Regions from separate parts of the Homo sapiens genome. Here regions 1, 2, 3 and 5 are each linked to region 4. Evidence: fine-mapped expression QTL. A gene starts in region 4. Each other region holds a variant in brackets. All regions are shown on one strand. Distances are from middle to middle. Region 1 overlaps ACO1 (aconitase 1). Region 2 overlaps ACO1 (aconitase 1). Region 3 overlaps ACO1 (aconitase 1). Region 4 holds the start of ACO1 (aconitase 1). Region 5 overlaps ACO1 (aconitase 1).

Evidence for each region.
Region 1: its variant is fine-mapped to the expression of ACO1 in skeletal muscle (GTEx, PIP above 0.99).
Region 2: its variant is fine-mapped to the expression of ACO1 in unexposed skin (GTEx, PIP 0.92).
Region 3: its variant is fine-mapped to the expression of ACO1 in whole blood (INTERVAL, PIP above 0.99).
Region 5: its variant is fine-mapped to the expression of ACO1 in cerebellum (GTEx, PIP above 0.99). The same link has a PIP of 0.9 or more in cerebellar hemisphere.

The regions. Positions count from the first base shown.
Region 1 is chr9:32,439,106-32,444,002 of GRCh38, forward strand. It overlaps ACO1 (aconitase 1), which reads left to right. Exons shown (of 21, transcript NM_002197.3): 19 at 1,360-1,482. Among named protein-coding and RNA genes, the nearest start is that of ACO1, 57 kb to the left of the region's middle. The variant G/A (reference allele first, on the strand shown) is at 2,050.
Region 2 is chr9:32,408,084-32,412,980 of GRCh38, forward strand. ACO1 (aconitase 1) reads left to right here. Exons shown (of 21, transcript NM_002197.3): 4 at 431-568. Among named protein-coding and RNA genes, the nearest start is that of ACO1, 26 kb to the left of the region's middle. The variant A/G (reference allele first, on the strand shown) is at 2,789.
Region 3 is chr9:32,450,436-32,455,332 of GRCh38, forward strand. It overlaps ACO1 (aconitase 1), which reads left to right. Exons shown (of 21, transcript NM_002197.3): 21 at 1-4,334. RIGI (RNA sensor RIG-I) reads right to left here. Exons shown (of 18, transcript NM_014314.4): 18 at 4,867-4,897. Among named protein-coding and RNA genes, the nearest start is that of ACO1, 68 kb to the left of the region's middle. The variant C/CAAA (reference allele first, on the strand shown) is at 2,542.
Region 4 is chr9:32,382,702-32,387,598 of GRCh38, forward strand. It overlaps ACO1 (aconitase 1), which reads left to right and starts at 1,942. Exons shown (of 21, transcript NM_002197.3): 1 at 1,942-2,034. RefSeq lists a silencer at 1,743-2,122.
Region 5 is chr9:32,433,118-32,438,014 of GRCh38, forward strand. ACO1 (aconitase 1) reads left to right here. Exons shown (of 21, transcript NM_002197.3): 16 at 611-715; 17 at 1,442-1,584; 18 at 3,133-3,280. Among named protein-coding and RNA genes, the nearest start is that of ACO1, 51 kb to the left of the region's middle. The variant T/G (reference allele first, on the strand shown) is at 2,992.

The DNA.
Region 1 (4,897 bases), 56 kb after region 4:
CCTCTGATCTTGGGTAACATGACGTGCTTTGCCATGAGATTGTCAACTTTGCAGTACTTTTTAAAGCACACACTCTCACATTGTTAATACCCAAAGCTACAGTCTCTGAAAATATCAGATAAGTTGTTTCTTTCTGGTCTTTGAAAGGATCCAGACAATTCAGTTAGAAGAAGGTTTTCACTGTTTCTATGACAGTTTCTATATTTACGAGTTCTGTCTAGCTGAAGACATACAGAATCCTATCCGGGTTTAGGTAATGCATGCGAAATTAACCACAGGTTCCATCAGTACACCAAAATACAAATTTGTGAAAGTCTGTTTGAGAGTTTTCTTTAGCTCCTGTCTCTCTTTTGAGGAATTTTATCTTCTGACTTACATAGCCTGGAAAAATAATGGTACTGCTCAACCACCAGAGATGATATCATGTCTTTGTAAAGTCTCAGTTCAGTGAGATATTCAGATTCCCTGTGAGAAACAAATCTGTTTGTATAAGATGTTTCTCATGTACTAAAATATTAATCTTTTTCTACCTTTTATTGGGCTTCCATTTGCATTTCTAGCATCTCTTCCCTTGACCTCCATGAAGAAAGGGGACTGATAAAAGTTTGCACTTTATATAATTTCAGAACATGTTACCTTCTTTGTGTTTTGCTAATTTTACAACTGACATCACCGAGTTTCTGATATTGAGCCAAAATGTTTAGGTCACATTCTGTTTTTTGAGTTTTAAAATAATTTAGTCAATGGAAAAGAAAAAATCTGATCTAGTTTCCTTTTCTCCCCTGATGCCTTAGGATTCTAATGTTTTTATAAAACCAACAACAATTAGGCATTTCTGTCAAAAGAATATAAAATGGTTTTTAAGAATACAAAATTTAAGGCCGGATGCAGTGGCTTACGCCTGTAATCCCAGCACTTTGGGAGGCCGAGGTGGGAGGATCACTTGAGGTCAGGAGTTCAATACCAGTTTGGCCAACATGGTGAAACCCCATCTCTACTAAAAATACAAAAATTAGCTGGGTATGGTGGTGTGCGCCTGTAATCCCAGCTACTTGGGAGACTGGAGCAGGAGAATCAATTGAAACCCGGGAGGTGGAGGTTGCAGTGAGCTGAGATCGTGCCACTGCACTCCAGCCTAGACAATAGAGTGAAACTCTATCTCAAAAAAAAAAAAAAGAATACAAAATTTAATTTGGTAGAAGTAAAAAGATCAAGATAATTGGGAATTTGTAGACAAGATGATTGGACGGATTTGGCCATCTGCAAACCCATCCAGCCCCGCCCTCACCAGGGCTCAGGGGACCTGTGTCCATTCTTTGCCTCTCCTGCATCTGTAAAACTTCCTTTTCTCTTCCTCAGCTTGATGTGTTTGATGCTGCTGAGCGGTACCAGCAGGCAGGCCTTCCCCTGATCGTTCTGGCTGGCAAAGAGTACGGTGCAGGCAGCTCCCGAGACTGGGCAGCTAAGGGCCCTTTCCTGCTGGTGAGTATGAAGTAGACATCCTAGGAGGCAGCTCCCCTCTGAACTGGGAGGGTCCCCAGGCACAAATCCTGTTGCTTTACTTTCCAAGAAGATGTCAAGGAAGAGCAAGCTCAAAAAAGCAGGTAGTGTTTATTCCTGGCCTGCTTCTTGGTGCCTCTGGATTTATTTTATTTGGTGAAGGGCAATGCAGAGTTGAACTGGATCTATCATTCATTAATGGACCTTGGGGGCATGTCTATAGAACAGTTTTGGGGTAGGGTCTGTGAAGTCTCTGAAAACATATCCAGAAGTATACATGTATGTCTTTCATGGGGAGAGGTGTCATGGCTTTTATAACATTCTCAGAGGCTGAGGACCCCAAATTTATTCAGGTCCCTTGTTCCAGGTGAATGTCAGGAATAAGCCAGGGCCATTGTATTATCTGTCAGTTTCACAGAAGAGAAAAGGAGCCTGGACTTTTTCAGGAGTTACTTTGGCAAGAATGGGTTCTAAGTCTCCTGGAAAATTGGGAGAATCACTTTTTATAATTGCACTTCACTGCCTATGAATATCTGCTTATGGGCTCTC[G/A]ATGAGAGTGAAACTCACTCTGCACATACCCAGGCAGCTCTTTAGAACCTTCCGCCATCTCGGGGCTCTACCTCTTGAGGTGTCCCCATAGAAGGGGCCATGCAGGGAGCAGAGAGCTTTTGCCTCTTGAGCATTTGCTTGCCCTAAAAGCAGAGAAGAATCATGCCACCCAGCCTGAATCTTCAGGGTGGGGTACACATGGCTTACCTGATGTCAATTTAAATCATTTGTGGCTCGCAAATTAATGCACCTCGGAAACACTAAGTTCATATCCACAAGTACAGTAAAAAAATGTGGCTGTCTGGCAGGCAGTTCTCCAGACATTTAGGCTTCTGATAATGTCTTTGAACATCACACCTATTATTTTAATTGGTTATTTTGCTCTGAGGAAAATAGAAATGTTCTCTGATTAGTTGATAGTAGGTCAAAGGCCTGTCTTTTCTGGAAACTATTGAAAAGAACCAGATAATTGCAGAAGAAAAGGATTTTAGGAAGGGGGTTGGGAGCTGTAGCCAAAATGCAACCCAGGCAGTCAGCACTCAGGTAGGGAACTCTAAGATCTGATAGAGGATAAGAAGAGAACTGGCCCCCAGGGGTTCTCTAGAGTCCAGACTTTTCTATAGAACCGCTTGAGTTCTGGCTGCCCAGGAAGCCATACAGTCTTCTGTTCTGTAGCTGTCCAGGCTGGGCCACGTAGCCGTGCTGGACTGTACTTACAGAGAGCAGTGGACAGCTATGATTTACAGCTTCTGAAGCAAAGCAGCATGGCCTTTACACAGAGCTAGTGACATGAATAGGGTGTGTTTAGAAAGCTTTCTACCTCCCTAGAATACATCCATCTATCCCTAAAACCCTAGAAAAGATCTACCGCCCCAAAGAATCTGCCCTCTCTCTGTAGCAGTGCGTCTCAAGTTTGGAAACACTTATGGGATTTTTTTTTTTTAATACTTTAATACCTGTGTTTGGATCTCATCTCCAGAGATTCTGGTTTAATTGGTAAGGAGAAAGGCCTGGACATTGGGATTTTAAAAGCCTCCCCTGCTGATTCTGGTATGCAGCAGTGGTTGAGAACCATTGCGCTATAGTTCACGGTTCTCAAAATTGTAAGAATCACTAGCCCCCTCCCACCCCACGCTCCCTGCAAGACATTCTGATGCAGCAGATCTGGGGTAGTACGCAAGTATCTATGTTTTCAACAAGCTCCTAAAGTGACCCTGGTGTTGGGCATCTTAAAAGTGTGCCCTAGATACCAAGAGACCTCTTAGGGTATTTTAATATTATATGACAGTTATTAATTATTAATAATAAACTAATGGGGAGTTCTAGTTAATGGAGTACCATCCTTTATTGCTGTATATTGCCAATTATAGATTCCCAATAAAACATACTTTAAGCTTAATATCAAGACTATATTCAACACAATTTCATCTTTGAAGCAGGAAGTGTAAAAGCAGTACACAAGAGGTAATCATTTACTTTATCTGTGGTATGTTCTGAAAGTTGCTTTTTTGATTGAACTTTCTGTGCCTGCTGATACACCTAAAATAGTAGAAAAAAATCAAGGGAAAAATTTTATGTTGTTTTGTGATGTGGATTCCAGATACAATGTAACTTTGCTAAAACATGTTATATCATTTGTCAGACTTCATGGGTCCAATTACCAGATACCAGCACTGACTCCCTGGGTAAAGGGGGACAATAAGGGCATCTACATCCCCGGGTTAGTGGATGGTGGAATGAGAGGAATTATTTAAGTGCTTACATAGTGCCTCTACATTATGAGCAATCAGTGAAGACTAGCTATTGTGTTATTTATCACTAGAGGATAACATTTTATGTAAAATATTAATATGTACTTACAAATAATTTAGGTGTGAGAACAGTTCTAACTTACAAAGTCTTTTGTTTATTTTTGTTTTTTTAACAATCACCGGCTCAAGAAGCTTATAATTTGGGGTAGGGCACAGACCAGTAAATAGACAATTACAAAGCAATATAACAGAAGAAAGCACGGTGTTATGAGGCAAAAATAAGGACCACTAACTGAAAATTTATTAAGCCATTTTCTGTCATCCTAGATGTATTCAAGATGTAATTCCCTTAGAGTACAAAGTTAATGTAAAAAAAACGCTTCATTGTGACCTTCAGTCTAGAAGATGTATGGCAAAATTAGGCTGAAGCATCTTTTTCTCCTGTGACATTAGACATCTGATTTCACTGAAATATAGCACACAATTACTGGAAATGAGGGCCTATAAAAGTCCACAAAACCAAGTGACTTTTCAAGATATAACAGAGGTAAAAGGTTACTGTCATCACTGTCTATGAATCATCTCATTATCGATATTCTAGACTTTGAAGTAAAATAATAAAAAGTTTACTTAAAGCAACAGCATCAGATAATTAAACAATTCTTTGGTATTTAATACTAATATTTCAGAAATAGAACTCCAGAGTATTTCCAGATGTGCATATGCTGATCGATTTTTAGGTTTATCATCCTTCGCTTTATAACGGAAGTCATTTCTTATACATTGATAGAATGTAGTATGAGTGTAGTGATATTTTTCACTCTGACATTAACTAAAAACATGGTGTAAATGGAGAATTATAGAGGTAGCAAGGCAAAGGTTACAAAATATATGCAAACATTTTTGTTTATTTGTATGCTGTATTTCATTGTTGTGTTTTTATTATACTTTAAGTTCTGGGGTACATGTGCAGAATGTGCAGGTATACATGTGCCGTGGTGGTTTGCTGCACCCATCAACCCATCATCTACATTAGGTATTCCTCCTAATGCTATCCCTCCCCTAGCCCCTGACCCGCCAACAGGCCCCAGTGTGTG
Region 2 (4,897 bases), 25 kb after region 4:
ACAGCCAACTTTTCTGAATTATATCCATTCCTTGAAATCTGGTCAAAACTGAAAAGGTGTGATCTGAAAGTCTTCTCCAGGTCTTTGTCAAGCCACCATGTGAATGGGAAGCACTCACAGCAGTAAGAGTTCCAGAGTTGTTAAGTGCCAGCTTTCCCATCATTGCTGTATTTAGAACATAGCCGTTATTAAATTTAATACGGTGATAACATTGTACATAGAGATACCACCCAGTCATGGTACTTACTACCTATGTGATTTCTGCCTGAGGAAATACGCTTAGAAACTTTCACTTTTCTAAGTCTCACCCATTGTTAGCTCCTCTGATGAGGTAGGGCCTTGTCAATATTATCAATGGAGGCAAAAGCTGAAAAATCCAGTTACACACATTTAAGGCTTATTTTCTGCATTATTCTCTTTCTTCTCTTAGGGGTGTGCCCGCTGTGGTTGACTTTGCTGCAATGCGTGATGCTGTGAAAAAGTTAGGAGGAGATCCAGAGAAAATAAACCCTGTCTGCCCTGCTGATCTTGTAATAGATCATTCCATCCAGGTTGATTTCAACAGAAGGTGAGAGATTAAAACGAATACCTGAGTGTTCTGCTTTGTGCAAAATCTTTGAACACGAATCTTTTTAAAATGTGTATATGTAGTTAAAGAAGAAAATCTTTCAAAGATATCTTCTGAAAAACTTAAACTTCATATACATTTCGCAGTAAAGATGTTTTAGGGGGAAGAGTGGGTGGATTTTTCTTTTAATCTTTTTTTATTTGTTTTTACTTCTTGGGTGGGAGCAGCCTGCATTTGAATCTGACTTGAAGTCTAGGTGAAAACACACACACATGAAGTTCTGCCATGAGAGCTTGTCAACACAAGTATATGTCAGTGCAAGTATATGTTTGAGCTTTTTCATCCACTGGAAGCTTACTCCTTTTTTTGATCCCAAGTAACTGTTGCATATCTAGCGATCTCTGCCTCTTCACGTGGGTTTCCATAATGCCTATCCCTTTCTTTCCCTGTGTTTCTTCTTTTGTTTGGGACATCCTCTCCTCTGTTCCTGCCAAATCTTACCTGTCCTTCAAGGCCAGCTTAAATCTTATTCTGTTAGGAATCCTTTACTTTCCAGCCTACGAAGCTCCCTGTTCTTCAGTTTGCCAGATGATTTAGTGTCCTGAGTGGGCCTGTAGCCCTTGAAGGGAAGTTGTCACTTGAGTTGACTTGGTAAGTAGACTCTCAGCTCCCTGAATGCAAGAGCTGAGCAGATAAATAGGCATTTAATATCCTAAATTGAGTGACCTTGAAATTATTCTTCGATTAAGTGAGAATCTTGGTAAGCCTGAATATAGACACCTAATGGTCTATGACACCTTTAGGTGGGGAAAAACTAAACAACTCTGAGGATAGGTTTTTTGTTGCTGTTTTTGTTTTTTTAAATCCATCCCCACATCCTTAGCATCCAAAGGTGTGCATATTAAAATGTCTTCGTTGGCCACGTGCAGTGGCTCATGCCTGTAATCCCAGCACTTTGGAAGGCTGAGGCAGGAGGATCGCTTGAGCCCAGGAGTTTGATACCAGCCTGGGCAACACAGGAAGACCATATCTCTACAAATAACTTTTTAAAAATTAGCCATGTGTGGTGGTGTGTGCCTGTGGTCCCAGCTACTTAGGAGGCTGAGGCAGGAGGATCACCTGAGCCCAGAAGGTTAGGCCATGCATACCAGTTGGGTGACAGAGCGAGACCTTGTCTTTAAAAAAAAAAAAATCTTAATAAAATGTGTTACAAAGAAGAGAACTGAACATGTGAATATGCAGTTGTGAACTAGCAACTTAGGCCTGACCTCTTAACAAACTTTGAAAGTGAATACTTCTTAATCAAAATATGTGTACCATTTGTAATCCTAGCCCATTGAAGAGATGACTAAGTTTTGTGAGGTTAGGAGCCAAGTAGTAATGGTCAATTTTCCTGACTCAGTTTATTTTAATGAGCTTTTATCCCTAAATCTCACTCTCTAAAAGCCTTTGGTTTACGTTGGAAGTATTGGGAGTGAGTCTTTGGGTTAAAATGGCATCAGGATATTAAACATTGTTATAAAGCCCCAGTCTTTTGTAAGATACACAAAAAGGCATAGAAAATAGTAGAATCTAAGAGAAGCACTTAGTGATTTGATAAGGCCTATAAGAGTAGAGTACCTGATGGCCGGGCGTGGTGGCTCACGCCTGTAATCCCAGCACTTTGGGAGGCTGAGGTGGGCGGATCACAAGGTCAGGAGATCAAGACCATCCTGGCAAACATGTTGAAACCCCATCTCTACTAAAAATACAAAAAAAAATAGCTGGGTGTGGTGGTGGGCACCTGTAGTCCCAGCTACTTGGGAGGCTAAGGCAGGAGAATGGCGTGAACTGGGGAGGCAGAGCTTGCCATGAGCAGAGATAGTGCCACTGCACTCCAGCCTGGGCGACAGAGCAAGACTCCGTCTCAAAAAAAAAAGAGTACCTGATGAAGTTAAACTTGAAAAAAAAAGAATCTAGTCATCTTTGCCCTTTGGCTCAAAATGGTAATCAACAGATGGGAATGAAGTCAGAAGAAACTCTACCATTTGTCCTTTTCTCCAAAAGGCAGAATTTGTACCAGCCAAAACCGTGAAGATTTCAATGTAGAGATGGGTGTAAAAAAAATCAGCTATTGCTGTATAACAGTCCCAGAATCTCAACAGCAGTCAACAGTAAGAATTTATTTCTTACACATCTTCTAGTTGTTTGGGAGGTCAGCTGACCTAGGTGAGCACAGTC[A/G]GGAAGCTCTGCTTTGCACTGCAGTAGCCAGGTTGGGAGCTTACACTGAACCATACATCTGCAGGGCAGCCGGGACAACTCTGTTCCATGTGTGTTTCTTTTGGGGTCCAAGCTAAAGGAGAAAGCAGCTGTCTTGTGACCACAGAGACTCAAGGGGGCAAGTGAAAACACACAGTATCTCTAAGGCCTAGCTAAGGACCAGCACAGCATCACTTCTGTTCACGGTGCCATTGATCAAAGCAAATCACATGGTTGAGCCCAAAGCTGGAATGGGGAAATACAGTCCACCCGTCTTCGGTGGAAGTAACTTCAAGATTACACCACAAGGGTTTTGATACAGGGAGGGCAATCAGGTATTTTTAAGAGGCTATTATCTTAACCTAGAAGTATGACTACCTAAAGTTGTCAAAACAACTATCAGTGGGAGAAATAACTTTTCCATATACAGTGCTGGAAATTGATTAGTGGAGGGAGCAGTTCTTATGAATGTTTAAAAGTTTTAGAAGGAAATGTATGCGTGTCAGATGTCTTGATGAGACTAAATTTAGAAGCAACGAATGAAACACGGAAAAAAGGTATAGATTTAGTTACTGCAAAGTTAAGAGAAAATAACTTGAAAAATATGGCAAAGTGTTAATATACTTAATATATGGAGTGTCTATAATCCATTTAGAAAAATAATAGGTCCCTGAAGATAAATGGGCAAAGGAAAGTGGACATTTCATAATAAAAGGAAATGCAAATGGTAGTAAACAGTATATAAAGGTTTTTCAATCTCACAAGGAATAAAAAAGTAAATATTTGAGATGTCATTTTCTTATCAATATAGTTGAGATTAGAAAATATTAATTATGAAGGTGTTATAAGGGAGACACTTTTATACACTGCTGATAGCACTATAAATTAGAAATGAGGATTAAAGCAATATGTGTTAAGACCTTAGAAATTTCTATATCCTTTGTCCTGGAATTCCTACTTCCAAGCATACCCTTTATATCATTTATTTATTTATTTATTTATTTTTTGAGACAGGTTCTCACTCTGTTCCCTAGACCGGGGTGGCGTGATCACAGTCCACTGCAGCCTTGACCTCCTGGGCTTAAGCAATCCTCCCACCTCAGCCTTCCGAGTAGCTGTGATCACAGGCATGCACCATTACATCTAGCTAATCTGGATAGCTGACTTCAGAAAAAGCTTAATGGCCAATAATGTTTATTAAAGTATTATTTATAAATGAAGCCTAGAAACATTCTAAATGTCCAACAAAAAATGCTTTATTAAATTACGGTATACCCCTGAAGTGAATCATTAGGTAACCTTTAGAGTTTAATTTATGAAGTCTTTAATAACACTTGGAACATGATCACATTGTAGCTCAACGAGCGAGATGCTACATTGCATATGTAGAGTGACATAAGCTACATGGAAAATGATGCAGGAATTAAAAGATTGGAAAGGGTGCCAAGTTGCTAAGCAGTTATCTCAGGGATTGCAACTGTCTTCATTTTCCTAATAAGAAGCTATTATTTTTATAATTAAGTCACTTAAGAATATGAAACCACTCAACGGGAAACAAAAACACCTTTATTTGCTTCCTTGGGGATGTAACTGAGTTCCTGGCAGCCTCAAAAGAAATTTAGAAAATGATCTTTCTCCAGTTAATATTGCTAACATCCAAACCAGATAAATTCAGGATAAAGAGAAATCTACTTTGTCCCCTGAATTGATGGTACTTGGAACAGACCATGTACTCGCCAACTCTTCCCTTTCCTTTGGACTCTGAACCTGTCCTAAGGCAATATGTCTTCCCCAACCTTCCTTTTTTCCTAAATCACGTGAACTCAGTTTAATGTTTTGGTTTCAAATGGAAGAGTTTAAAATATATGCGTAAAATGTTATCCTGTTTGAGATAGGATAAAGACCCACTTCAGAAGTTAGGAAAGTAGCCATAAATTCATGCCCAGTTTCATCTTTCTTGGAGTCTTTCATTAATGTTGATGGGTTTACCTTCATTTTGCTTGCCTAGAAGGTGAAAGTACAGGTAGAGACAGAATTGTAATATAGTTTTCATGTCTAAACTCTATTGACTCAAAATTCAAAGAGCTCATG
Region 3 (4,897 bases), 68 kb after region 4:
CAGCTGAACACAAGCAAACCTTCTCAGGAGGTGTCTCCTACCCTCTTATTGTTCCTCTTACGCTCTGCTCAATGAAACCTTCCTCTTGAGGGTCATTTTCCTTTCTGTATTAATTATACCAGTGTTAAGTGACATAGATAAGAACTTTGCACACTTCAAATCAGAGCAGTGATTCTCTCTTCTCTCCCCTTTTCCTTCAGAGTGAATCATCCAGACTCCTCATGGATAGGTCGGGTGTTAAAGTTGTTTTGATTATGTACCTTTTGATAGATCCACATAAAAAGAAATGTGAAGTTTTCTTTTACTATCTTTTCATTTATCAAGCAGAGACCTTTGTTGGGAGGCGGTTTGGGAGAACACATTTCTAATTTGAATGAAATGAAATCTATTTTCAGTGAAAACTTGTTGACTTTGAGTTTTGCTGTGTTTGTGGCTAGAGTTTTGGGATATTTAGTACAGAGTGAATCTCACACCATATCATTGGGAAGCCTGAATAACCTTCATATTCTCCCATTTTTACAACTCTATCAGAACTGTACGGGTATAACGGAAATGTTTAGGAACCATTATGCTCGCTCTTCCCTGTTTGGGAGCAGACAAGAAGGAAGAGTAGCCTGGTGGCAGTGGCAACGATATAAGTACATAAGGAAAAGCAGATAAACTTCAGGACACTAAAAACCAATTATCTGCTCATTTTTACCCCTGTAGTCATTTCTGGGCATGCCTTAGTTTGCTTGGGTTGCTATAATGTAATGCCATAGACTGGCTGAAAGAACAGAAATGTATTTTCTCACAGTTATGGAGGCTGGAATTCTGAGATCAAAGTTGAAGCCACTTCATTTTCTGGTGAGGACACTCTTCCTGGTTTACAGATGGCCACCTTCTTGCTTGTTCTCACATGGCATTTCTTTGGTATGTGCCTGGTGGGGGAGAGAGAAAATAGGCTCTCATGTCTCTTCTTACAGCAACACTAATTGTATTGGATCAGGGTCCCACTCTTATGGAGACCCAGGAAAGCTGGTGGTATAACAACTTGGTTCAAGTCCAAATGCCTAAGAACCTGGGGAGGGGCATGGGGAATGCTGGTATAAGTCCCAGAGTCTGAATGCCCAGGAACAAGCAGGAGCTGTGATGTCCAAGGACAGGAGGGCAGGATCTTTGTAATGAATTTTTAATGTCAACCTTAGCACTCAGGGGATATGGCCTGGTCATCAGAACATCTGGAATCTAATCCTCTTTCTACTTCTCACCAGATGAGGGATCAAGACAGGTTATTTAGCATCCCTGCACTTGCGGTCCTGGGGATCTTATTTATATTCATTTAAAAAATAAATTACAAACAAACAGCCAGGCGCAGTGGCTCATGCCTATAATTCCATCACTTTGGGAGGCCGAGGTGGGTAGATCACCTGAGGTCAGGAGTTCTAGACCAGCCTGGCCAACATGGTGAAACCCCGTCTCTACTAAAAATACAAAAAATTAGCCAGGTGTGGTATTGTGTGCCTGTAATCCCAGCTACACAGGAGGCTGAGGCAGGAGAATTGCTTAAACCCGGGATGCAGAGGCTGCAGTGAGCCGAGATCGTGCCATTGCACGCCCGCCTGGGCTACAAGAGCAAAGCTCCGTCTCAAAAAAAAAAAAAAATTACAAACAAACAGAACTCCATTGTACAAAAAAACCTGTGATCCTCAAGTTAAGATCAGTCCTAGAATAAAAACACTAAGAATGGCTGAGAAAACAGACCTCCACCCTCTCAGCTCTCCATTACTGAGCAGCTGGGGAGCTGTCTCGCTCCCCGCATTCAGTGGCTCCTGTGGTCTGTATTTTTGTATCCTCCCCAAAATTCAGGTGGTGAAACCTTAACCCCCCAGGTAATGGTAATAGAAGCTGGGGCCTTTGGAAGGTGATTAGATCATGAGGGTAGTGCCTTTTAAAAGAGACTCAAGATAAGATAGAGACCCCCTCATTTCTTCTGCCATGGGAGAACACAGCAAGAAGTCACCATCCGTGAACCAGAAAGTGGGTTCTCACCAGATACTGAATCTGCCAGTGCCTTGAACCTAGACTTTCCAGCCAGAACTGTGAGAAATTTCTATTGTTTATAAGCCACCCAGTTGATATTTAGTTACAGCAGCCCAACCAAGACTGTGGTTATGAGGAAACAAACACATTATTGTGGCTAGACTAATGGAATTGGGTCCCTTACCTCCAAGTACACCCTCTGTCCTTTTCGGTAAAAATATCTTCGCCAGGCACGGTGTCTCATGCCTATGATCCCAACACTTTGGGAGGCCGAGGCTGGAGGGTTGCTTGAGCCCAGAAGTTTGAGACCAGCCTGGGCAACACTCTACAAAAAAAAAAATAAATAAATAAATAAATAAAATAAATCAGCCAGGTGTGCACCTGTGGTCCCAGCTGTTCAGGAGGCTGAGGTGGGAGGATCACTTGAGCCTGGGAGGTCGTGGCTATGATTGCTCCACTGCACTCCAGCCTGGGCAATAGAGTGAGACCCTATCAATCAATCACCACCCCCCCCCCCCC[C/CAAA]AAAAAAAAAAGTATCTTGGCCAGTGTCTCAACCTTGCCCACTAACAAGCCTAAATAAACCAACTTCTTTTACCTGGTTCTTTAAGGGCTGCTCGTCTTACTATCCAAATTAAAAATCTGCTGTTCTCCCTCCCATATTCTTTGCGAATGAAGATTCCCCTGTTTGTTTGGATAGTTTTCCAAATTCATTACTGCATTCCTGGCATCCGCAGCAAGCTAAGAGTTAGTTAATATTTTTAATATAGCAAATAAGGATGAGGGATGCCCTTCATGTGTATTTACACACCAGATTTTTATGGTACATAGGGAGTAATCTAGGGAAAAGATATATTAGGCATGAATCTTAGCTGTGGTAGAAGCACAGCTCAAATTAGCTTAAGGAAAAAAAAAAAAAAGCTGGCTCATAGAACTTGAGGACAGTGGTGGCCATGACTATGGGCTTGATTGGATCTAGTGACTCAAGCTCCCTTCCATTTGCCCCTCCAACCACCCCCCCATCCCTCCACCAATCATACCTTCTGTTGGCCTCTGCAGTAGAGTGGCCTCTTCTGGGCCCTTCCACATGCCAGGGGATATGGCCACCAGCAGTTCTGGGGAAACCATTAGTAATTTGTGATCGTAGAGATTTGTCTCCCAGTATTCCCTAGGGCAAAAATATTGGGAGTTCCTAGTCACCTAAATGAAGAACCTTATTTTTAGCAGTTTCCCTTTCAGGGCTCTAACAGGACTGTGGAGTAATGTACGGGGTTATGTAGGAGCAATGCAGAGCCACTTTTGAAAAACAGTAGCCAAGGTTCTACTGGCTGCCTTCTTAGGACATTATTAAATATCATAAACACAAGTGGAATTTAACACCCAGCCAGTTTGTGTTCAACCAGACAGCGTCATTATGAACAAAGATTATATAACGATAGCTGATATTAAGTAAGTTTTAAAAGTTGACATCCCAAGAGTGAAGCCTACTTATTCAGTACAGATTTGTTGAATGAAATTCGTAGTTTTATTTTACGGCATAATGAAACAGAGTTCCAGACATGTACCTGCCAAATTTGGTTCTGGTTGTCTTATCGTATGCAGGCTGGATACCTGCTACTGTGCTTCTACAGGATGTTAACAGTGTCCCCTGAGTAAAACAGTTCCACGGTCAGTACATTTGGGAACCACTGAGTTAAATGGGTTTTATCACTGCAGAACAGACACAAGAACAATGTGTGCTGTAAATCACTGTTTGCAGGGAAGGTGGCAGCAAATGGCACAGAAACCCACCTGACCACAGACTGCTTTCTTCTGGGCGTTCACGCACTGTGCTCCACAGGATACTCTTGAGAAACATTGAGCTATGGTTGGTCTGTTGTTTGAAATTCAAATAATAATGAATCCATTTTAAGGACAGGAATTGGTTTACTGACCTTGATGTTGGGATGACTCTTCATTTCAGGGTGAAAATATCACAGCATCAGCACAGGCCAGGACCACAGAGATAACAAGGTGGTAGTTGTGTAACAGGTTGTGTCTGAACCACAGGAGCTTCAAAACATACACGGCTGGACACCCTGCCAGGATGCTCTAATGGGGCTGGGCATGTGTCCATGAAAAAGACTCCCCAGTTGTTTCTAAAATGTGGCCTTTGTTCTAGAAATGCAATGACCAGCATTTGGGAGTCAGTCAAAAGATCCACTTCCTAAAAGCCTACCTGCTCATTTCTTTCATTCAATACATATTAACCAAGTGCCTACTTTGTTTGAGTCCATGCCTGGCAATGACATTATTCCATTAAAAGTCAAACAAGGAAATGCTAAGTTCTCCTTATTTATTTTCACTTCAGTCTGCCTGCCTCAGTTGGCTGAATAGGGCTATTCACCTTCATCCAAATTGAATCATTTACATACTTAAAAGAACTTTTCTTGGCCAGGCATGGTGACTCACGCCTGTAATCCCAACACTGTGGGAGGCCGAGGCAAGTGGATCACTTGAGGTCAGGAGTTCAAGACCAGCCTGGCCAACATGGTGAAACCCCGACTCTACTAAAAATAAAAAAATTTAGCCGGGTGTGGTGGTGGGTGCCTGTACCCAGCTATGTGGGAGGCTGAGGCAGGAGAATCACTTGAACCTAGAAGGCAGAGGTTGCAGTGAGCCGAGATCACACCACTACACTCCAACCTGGGCAACAGAGTGAGACTCCATCTCAGAAAAAAAAATAATAATAATAACTTTTATCTTATTAAATCTATTTCTAGTAGATGTTTTACACATCCTATTGGAGTTCTTAAACAATAGTGTATTAGTCTGTTTTCACACTGCTATAAAGAACTGCCTGAGACTGGGTCATTTATAAAGAAAAGAGGCTTAATAGATT
Region 4 (4,897 bases):
GTTCTTTACAGCAGCGTGAGAACGGTCTAATACAGACACCTTTGGAATATCCAGGTGGGGTTGCCACATATGGCTGCAAATCAAGAGTGTGAAGGTCAGAAAGTTAACTAAGACCAATGACAGAGACATAGCAGGCTTCAGCTAGAAGTGGCAGGCAGTCTGCATACTGAGAAAATAGATGAAGAAAAACTCAGCAAATGGAGAAACATATAAAGCAAGAGGAGAGAGTGTAGGGAAAGACCTTAAAAAAGAGGGACAAAAGAGGGAAGAGGTGACTCCTAAGAGCGGAGGGCTGAAAAGCCAAAAGGAGGTTAACATTTCTAGGAAAACGAATCGCCAGTGTCAAATACCACAGAGTAGTGAGTAAGGACAGGAACAGAGGACAGGCCCTGGGATTCACGATCTGCACGTCACTGGTGACAACGTCCAAGAGCAACAGACTGGGGGGATGTGGAACTATTTCCTTCACGGTTTTGACCAGCGTGCTTACTAATAAATCTCAATTCCCTTCATAGCTCTGATTTGATTGTTTTCTGCGAAGGATTCTCAGTTACACGGATGTTATCATTGAACATTAGATACTTTGCTTTCCGAATGGCTGCCTCATTAAGAATCGCAATTTAGCTGGATGTGTCCTCATCGGACTTCCCCAGCCTTCTACTCACTCTCACCTTGCCCCTACTCTCCCTACCTCCCAAGGGGACTGGAGCATGATTTTTCAGGGATTGTGGTGCACCTCTGCCATATGGTGGACATTCAAAGAAAATTTAATTACTAATGTGAATGGAAAGGATTTAGGAAGTGGGTGGGAAAACAGTCTCCTCTCATATTGGAAATACAGTTACTTCCCCTTTCAAAATAAATATAAGTATTTATATTTCAAAGTTAAATATAACTAGACGATAGTTGTACCCTATAGTGCAGTATGACAGGGAAGGTGTAGGCTTTGGTGTCAAACCAACCTAAGGACTGAGTCTCAGCTGTTGCGCATTGCACACCTGCAAAGACGGGTAATATTCTTTACTTGTAAGGTGGTTGGAAGAGCTGAACTGAATAACGTGGAAAGAGTCGATCACAGGGCTTTGTGCAGAATAGGAGGGCAGTATAAAGTAGCAGGGGGGCTATTAGTACTGGCTATTGTTTACTCATCCTATAAGCTGCTTATTCAGAAAACTACAGTAACTTTCCAAATAATTTGGGCAGGAAAACCTCACCACCTTTCATCTAGAAAGATCTAATCACTTCTTTGAACGCCATTCACCCAAGAGGGCACAACTCCTACCAACATGAAAAGCAGATCTTGTGAAAGCCCACTTGCTGCCATCTCCCAGCCATTTCTCCGACTTCAGACCGGTGAACATCGTGCATTAGAAAGTGTTGTTACATGTCCAAGGAAATCTACATATAGAACTTTTGCCACGGAAATGCTGAAGTCCTATTCTGACAGCGTGACTCCGATGTCCACTTGGCAGGCTTTGCGCAAAGAATTAAGGCGAGGGTGGAGAGGGTGGGTAGGGTGGGGACGGACAAAGTGAGAAGGGAGGCGGGCCAAGTGACCACACGTACATGAAGCCTCTCCAGTTATGGCCAAATCATTTTTTAAAAATAATTCCATTTCTTCCCCACCCTTTGGTCACTTCCTAACGCCGGCTGGGGAGTCACATGCTAAGCTCCAAAGTGAGCAACAGACACCCTCGTCCCAGGTCCCATGCTGGCAGAAGCGGACCCGGGCCGAGGGATCAGCCCTCCCACTTCCAGCGGAGGAGCCCTTCGCAACCCTAGCCTCCAGCCCGGGGCGAAGTCCTCCAGGCCCGCGGGGGCGCCCGCAGGCTCCGCCCCTTCTTCGGCTAGCTGCCCGTCCGTCCCGCCCCTGCTCCGCCCTTCCCGCCCCTGCTCCGCCCATCGCGCGGCGGCCCCGGGGGCGAGAGGGGGCGGAGCGTGGAGGCGGCAGCTGGAACCGCGCAGCGCACGGGAACGCGTCCCGCTGCTTGGGTCAGGTTCGCCGGTCGCGGGAGCCCCGCCGTGCAGTCGGAGGTGAGTACCGACGCGGCCCGACCCACGTCCCCAGGCGGGAGCGCCGTCCACCCTGTATCCCTCGAGAGTCGGTGCGGGCCTTTACCGAGGTGCCCGAGGCAGTGGCGGCACGGGGGACACGGAGGCGAGCTTGGGGAGGCTGAGAGGAGAATCGGGGACGTGTTTCTGGCGACTGACGTCTCCACCCTGTCCCCAGTCTATGTCATGCCGGGGAGAGAAACCAGGGATTGGAAGTGGCTTTCCTAGACCCTTCTTAGCCTTGGCTGTGCGTGCTGTCCTGAAAGTCCTTGCCTAGGGTGTGCGGCCAGTCCTGGGAGTCCTAACCCCGAGGGTGTGAGGCCCGCACTGGGAGTCCTCGCCCAGGCCCGGCTGGCTGGATAGGGAAACCCTTGCTAAAGTTGTGCGGGCAGATCCGGGAATCCACTCCAAGGGGTAAAGGGAAAATGGGATGAGGGGGAAGAGACCCTTCGTGGGAGGCTTGAACACAGAGCCCACCATGATAGATTCAGAGATCTAGAAAGGAGCTTGGGCTGCAGTTATGACCAAGTCATTTTTTTCTAGATTCAGCTAGCACATCATAATGGCATCTTCCTTCTTGCAACACATGTAACTCTCTTCCCTGGGGGACAACCTCTAGGACAGAAGTCCCCAAACTTTTCTGGTACTCAGTACTCCTTTACACTCTTAAAAATTAGTATCTTAAGGAGCTTTTATGTGTGTTATATCTATCCATATTTATAATATGTAAGTAAGACTGAGAAATTTGTACTATAATAATTCATTTAAAAAGAATAGTGAACTAATTATATCTTAACATTGCCTATTTTTATGAAAAAGAACTATATTTCCCAAAACAGAAAATGATTGAGAAGAGTGGCATTGTTTTACATTTTTGCAAATCTCTTTGATGTCAAGCGTAATTGAAGACAGCTGGATTCTGATAGCTGCTTCTGCAGTCTGTTGCAATATCACATATCATGTAGCCTCTTGAGACCTCCACTGTATACTCCTGAAAATGTGTGAATGAAAAAAAGCAAGTAACATTTTATTACTAGGAAAATGGTTTTGACTTTGGAGATCCCTAGGAGTTCTCTGCACCACACTTTGAGGATGCTGGTGTAGGAAATGCTTCAGAGGCTTCATTCATTGGGCCTGCTTCTTGTTTGTGATCCTTCCTCTGATTGGGAACACACACCACCTCATGCCATGGACAGTATTAACCTCTGGTATCTGGAACCAAGTTTGATCTCACTTTGGAAACCATGTACTAGGTCCCCACGTGAGGCTGTGATGAACCTTGCCAGCCTCCTGAAAAGTCAGCAAGGCTTCGCACATGCCTTTGGTTGTCTCTGTGCTTGCAGAGCTGACCTGTCTGTGCATCAGGATTACAACAGTGATGTGGCAAACAGGACCTGTAGGCTCACAAAAGTGCCAGTGGGGAGACCATGCCAAGTGTGTAGGGGTTCCTGTGAGAGTTACCAAGTAGTCAGGAAGTTATTTCCAAAAGAACAAGGAGGCATGCTTTTGCCTTCCCTTGCACGTGTTCATTTCTGTTTGCAGTTGCATGGTTATTAGCCTTGAGTTTATTGGAATAATGATTTCCAGTCTTGACGTTCTTTCACTTTCCACTTTCAGAGGGTGTCACTCTGAGTGGTGCTTCCTCAGCCCCTGTCAAAAAGCAGTTTCCACCATCCTGGAGTGTGGTAGGTGAGGTCCTTCACGGGACTCTTTCCTTAGCTTCGTGCCTTGTCAGAACAAGTTCAAGACAGATGTTATGTGTATATATTTGGGAGGAAGAAATTTTCTAACTCCATCCTCCCTTTTGTTCCTTCATCCATAGAGCCTCTTGTGCTCTGATGGATCAGTTTAAATGCTACAGCCGATACTTGAGAAATGTTGCATGCACATGAGCGTGTTGTGTGTGTTGCACAGTCCACAGGTGAGGAGGAGGAGAAGTCCACAGGAGAAGGAAATGGGATCTAAACTCTGAGCACCTGCTGTGTTCTTTGTATTAAAAAATTCCACTTTGATGGTGGGGTCTCATTCCTTCATTCTTTCAGTAGATTTTTATTGGCCACCTATTTCTCATGTGTCCAGTTATGTGCGGGATGCCAGGAAAGTAGTGAGCACAAAAGATGCAGTCCCTGTCTTTCTGGCAATTATGGTCTGATAGCTTTGATAACTGCTGGTTAATTGAGATAGTCTATTATATAGTCAGAGTGTGTACATGAAAGCTGGTCCTGTGTGAAGAGCAGTACCCCCTACCTAAAGTGTGCTTCAAAGGCATGTGCTGAAGAAACCAGTCCCACACTGTGAAGATGATGATAAAAACCAACGTGTATCACCACGTGCCTGGCAAAGAACTTCCTTTGCCTTCTTTCCCCCACTCTTCCTTCTACATAGGAAGTAATTTCCTGTGAGGCAGCCAGATTCACAGGGAAATTACCTCCAACCTGGTGCCAGTCACTGGGCCAGCCTCGGGTTAAGACACTTTCTCTGGGTCTCAGTGTCTTTGACTTTAAAATGAGGAGTTAGGCCATTGATAGTAAGTGTCCCAAGGAGCCAGTGGTTTCAGAGCTGGTTTATACTAGCATTTGTGCATATCTCTTCCTAACTCCGTGTTCAGTGGCAACACATTTTTTAGATTGAAATAAGCCATGGTGGGAATAATAACACCATGGAAATTGGCAAATGCTACATCAGAGCTTTTTTTTCCTCTTGGAGTTCAAGTTGTTAAACCTTTGCCAGCTGACACTGCTATTGTCTGAGCCAAGGTGCTTTTGGTTTGTTTTTTTAGTAGAAAACAGACTCTTTAGCCTAGACAAAGATCCTAGATATAGGGTGTATGATTCAAGTCCTCTAA
Region 5 (4,897 bases), 50 kb after region 4:
GATAGTCACTAGCTTCAGCCCACACTCAACAGGAGGGGGTCAACTAAGGATGTGAATCCCAGGAGGCAGGATCCCTCCTGCCATCCTAGAAGCTGCCTATCACGGTGCATATGTATGTTGTTGTTTGTTTTTCAGAGACCAGGTCTTGCTTTGTCACCCAGGCTGGAGTGCAGTAGTGTCATCATAGCTCACTGCCACCTCAAATTCCTGAGCTCAAGCAATCCTCCCATCTCAGCCTCTCGAGTAGCTCGGACTACAGGCACATGCCACCACACCCAGACAATTTTTTTTTTATTTTTGTAGAGACATGGTTTTGCCATCTTGCCCAGGCTGGTCTTGAGCTGCTGGGCTCAAGCCATCCTCCCACCTCAGCCTCCCTAAGTAATGGGATTAATAGATGTGAGCTACCATGCCCAGCCCACAGTGTCTCTGGATTTTTAAGTTACTTAGCATGACCCACTATTAGTATAAAGGAACTCTTGTATGTGGCTATTGAGAATAAAAATGGTTCTTAGTGTACCTTTTAGCTTGAATGTATGTTTTGTGTTTGCATATTAAATTTTCTCTGGAATGGGATGTGATTAGATCTGCCTTTCTTTTCTTTTTTAAGACTGTGAATGAAAGCTGGAATGCCTTAGCAACCCCATCAGATAAGCTGTTTTTCTGGAATTCCAAATCTACGTATATCAAATCACCACCATTCTTTGAAAACCTGGTATGGCTTTTTATTTTTTAACAAAATGAATTCTTTGAAGGGTTTCTTTCCTAATAATATCTACTTTATTACCCCATGCTCTTGCTTTGACTACCCATTTTATTAAACCCTTTGCAAACCCAAGCAGATACTGCTGGGGAAAGTTTTGGGAGGCTGGGATATTTGGCTGCCGTGGGTCTATAGTTTCTCTATGCAGGGGTTCTGCGTGGATGTACACAGCCACCCTAGTAATCACCTGGACTTAAACCTAGTAGAGTCTGAGGGACTGTCCCAGGAGACCATCCCCAGAGCCCACCATAGTGAACCTTATACCCATAAAAACCAGGGACATTGTCCCTGAAACTGATGATCTAGAAGTTGGTGCTCTCCTGGGTGGGTCACTGTGGGAAGGGATGCAGTAGAAGTGAGGATTCCAGTTGTCCTTAGCATCTGAGGAGTTCTAGGGATGTGAAGAGAGAGAATGTCATTTGCAGCTGCGTTACTGTTGCTTTTGAGGGGATATTGCCAGTATTTTACCTTTTCTTCAAGAGTAAGATATGAATGTTTTGAGTAAATTCACCTTACTTTTCTTGGCCTCTTTGATAAAAACTAGAACACTAGAATTTTCTGTGCATTGGTGTGGAACTGTCCTCTGATTCAGGTCCATGGGCCACCATCGTAGAGACTGATCTGGTAACTTGTTTGGGAAAACCTGGGCCAATGCTGACTTTTTGTATTCTTTGCTAGACTTTGGATCTTCAGCCCCCTAAATCTATAGTGGATGCCTATGTGCTGCTAAATTTGGGAGATTCGGTAACAACTGACCACATCTCCCCAGCTGGAAATATTGCAAGAAACAGTCCTGCTGCTCGCTACTTAACTAACAGAGGGTAAGTATGAATGAGGCAGGAAGGACTAAAGGCAAAAATGGAGGAATGGAGTTAATGAGGCCAGCATTTCTCTTTTCACCTGGCCCTTTGGAATGAGACTCTTTGGTTGTGCACTGAGGCTTAACCCTGGGGTAAAAACCAATTGCATTTTCTGTTTGCTGCTTAACAGCTTCCATGGGAGAAACGATCAACATGTGAATCCTAACAAGGGGAAGGGGAGAGGGACCTTCATTTGAGCAAGTGTATATATTAGGCCCAACTGTCATCCCTGCCCCCGGCTTGGCTGATCTTTAAAGTACAAGGCTCTGCTCTTAACCTGGGGCAGAGGCAGAACCTGACACGCATTGCCAGGTCCTGGTTGAGAAACCTAACGTTTACAGAGCACTGCTTGGAGGATTTGCAGCTTACTCATCTGTTTATCAGTTCTTCAGTAGTGTGCTGATATTCATAGGTATGCCAGTATTATCAACTACTGTCTCATATATTAATCGAGGTCAGTGGTTCCCCAATCTGAGTTTCCACGAGAATCACGTGAGGACATAAAAATTCCTGGTTTCTATCCCCATCTGCTGAATCAGTTCTTTCAGTGATTCCCCAGAGCGAATTTGAGGAACAGAATCCAAATGCCTTTTTTCTATTGATTGTTGAGCCCTTTTGAGGCATGAACACGTCAGAGAATTGAATGAAAGCAAATCTAATGCCTTCCCAGAAAAATGCACATACCCACAACATTTTGGATAGTTTCAGGGATTCCAAGACATACTCACCTGCTCCTGTAACCCATTAAACTCTCTCAGTCCTTAAATTCTATCTAACCATTGATTAAATAATATTAACACACCCACCCCCTAGTATTTTAAGGAACAGCTCAGTGAACTGGTCACGGTGTTAATTGTAAGGTATGTTTCCTGACACTGCAAAGTTTCCTTTCACTGAGGCCCCACAGACAAGATTTCCTCTGGTTTGGGGACCAGAAATAGCTGTTCTGCCTCTTTAGCACTGCCTCGATTTTTCTCTCATGAAAGTTGTAAGTTATGTTGCCAGCTGTGTGTCTTTCCTTTGCATTGAGTTCCTGATAATTCAGGGACAAATTTGAAACTATTTCTGGTTACTTTGTGGAACGTATTTTGTGTTTCCCCCTGTTTGTGGCTCCATCTGATTTGCCTACCCTAATTCTTCCCTTTGCTTCCATTTTCTCACTTATTTTTAATTTAGCTCTTTATCTTATATGAAGCTTTATAGGCTACCCTACTAACAAATAAAACATTCTTTTTTAGACTTCCTTCTTATTTTTCTAACCAGATTTGAAAGACAATTAACCCAGGAGAATACTGACTTATGCCTCTCACCACCCCTTCTCACCTCTCTCTCTTCTCCGTTGAAGCTTTGGGGACAGCTTTTCTGCCA[T/G]GGAGAACAATGCTTAGGAGACTTAGAGAAATAGCCAGGTCTATGTTTTGTTTTGTTTTGTTTTTTTCTTTTCTTGGTGTAAGCTAAGGTTAATCTTTGCTTGCTTCACTAAGCCAGCTCCTTTCTTGCTTGCCTTCTTAGCCTAACTCCACGAGAATTCAACTCCTATGGCTCCCGCCGAGGTAATGACGCCGTCATGGCACGGGGAACATTTGCCAACATTCGCTTGTTAAACAGATTTTTGAACAAGCAGGCACCACAGACTATCCATCTGCCTTCTGGGGAAATCGTGAGTATTGTCTTCTGCTTCCTGCAGACACTAGCATTTGTCAGCCTTGGTGGAGGTTGGATATTTACAGTTACTCGCCTTTTGGTTTTAGTTTTTCTTCACAGCTCCATCCTACCCTAACTACAGTCCTCCTTGCCAGGTGTCCATATGCATAGAATGTATCATTGACAAATTCAAACCTTTTCTTCTTGCTTAGAGATTCTAGACCGTGGTTTCACTGAGTCTCTTTTCTTAGGAATTGAGCTTTGAGTGACATTTCATTTAAAGTATTCGAAGGGGAAATACCAGGTTAAATTAAAGGATATTTATCAAGAAGTGCTATTGTATGACTTTATTGGCATGTAATTTAATTCATCTAATCCACATGAAAAGAAGGAGTAGAGAGGTGCTTGGAGGCATGTTTTGGTTCTAATGGGAGCACTGTGGTCAGTATGTTGCAGCAGGGACTGTTTGTTCCCAGCTCCACGTTATACTAGCTGTGGAGCCTTAAAGTTATTTCCATCTCTGAGCCTTGCTTTTCTCACCTGTGAAGTAAAAATACTACTTACCTTGGAAGAACGCTCTGAGGCTTAAAATGAAATGGAATGAAATATAAAACCTAGCATAGAGTCTGGTACATGTCATAGGTCCTTAGTGTCACTTCCCTTCCCAGTGAGTGCTGTGAAATTGCCTGTAAACTGTTTAACTTACTTGAGAAATAACCCTGCCGACTTATTTTAAAATAATAATCGCTAATATGTCTATGGCACTTAACTACATTCCAGGTGTTCTCCTAAGCTCTTGGCATATATTGATTTATGTAATGCTCATAACAACCCCTTGAGGTAGGTACCATGATTATCTGTGCTTTAAATTGAGAAGTGAAGCATAAAGAGGTCATATTACTCCTTTAGGTCACACAGTGGAAAAGCTGAAATTAAAACCCAGAAAGTCTGGCTCTGAAGTCAGTGCCCTTTACCACCACACATACTGCCTCACTCGTAACTGATTATATTTTTGTAACACAAACTCGTTCTTTAGAAATAACCAGTACCTAGCCCAGCAGACGCCTGTTCAATGGATAGCAGAGGTTACAGAATATTAAATGTAAAAAGATACATGTCGAATGATGGAATACCTTAGAGACCAAGGGGAAAGACTTGTAGTTATAGACATTGGGGGACCCCTAATAAACATCACAGTGTACCACACGCATTTACAAGCCCTGCATGACATAGAACTTCTAGTCAGATGTCTAGAACCTCATCTTAAATGAGACAGAATCAAGGATGAACAGACATTTGAGTCAAGACTTGAACAGGGTGATGGGGAGTGCAAAAAGTAAAAGAAAAAAATTATATACTTAGAGAAGAGTTCATTTTCTGTTGCTATGAAATAACAATCAGAAGACAAGAAAGAATGTTTTAAATTTAAAAAGAAAATTCAAAGGAGAAGGTGATTAGTTGAGAACATTTCCTAGAATATGTAACAGAAAGATAAGAGAAAAAAATGTAAGAACTGAACTCAGGAGGCCCTAACAACCTGCCTAAATAGAAGTGTTAAAAAGAGAACAGAAAAAATGCAAGAGAGGAAATTATTTCAAAACAAAACAAAAAACTACAAGCAAAATTTCTCTGA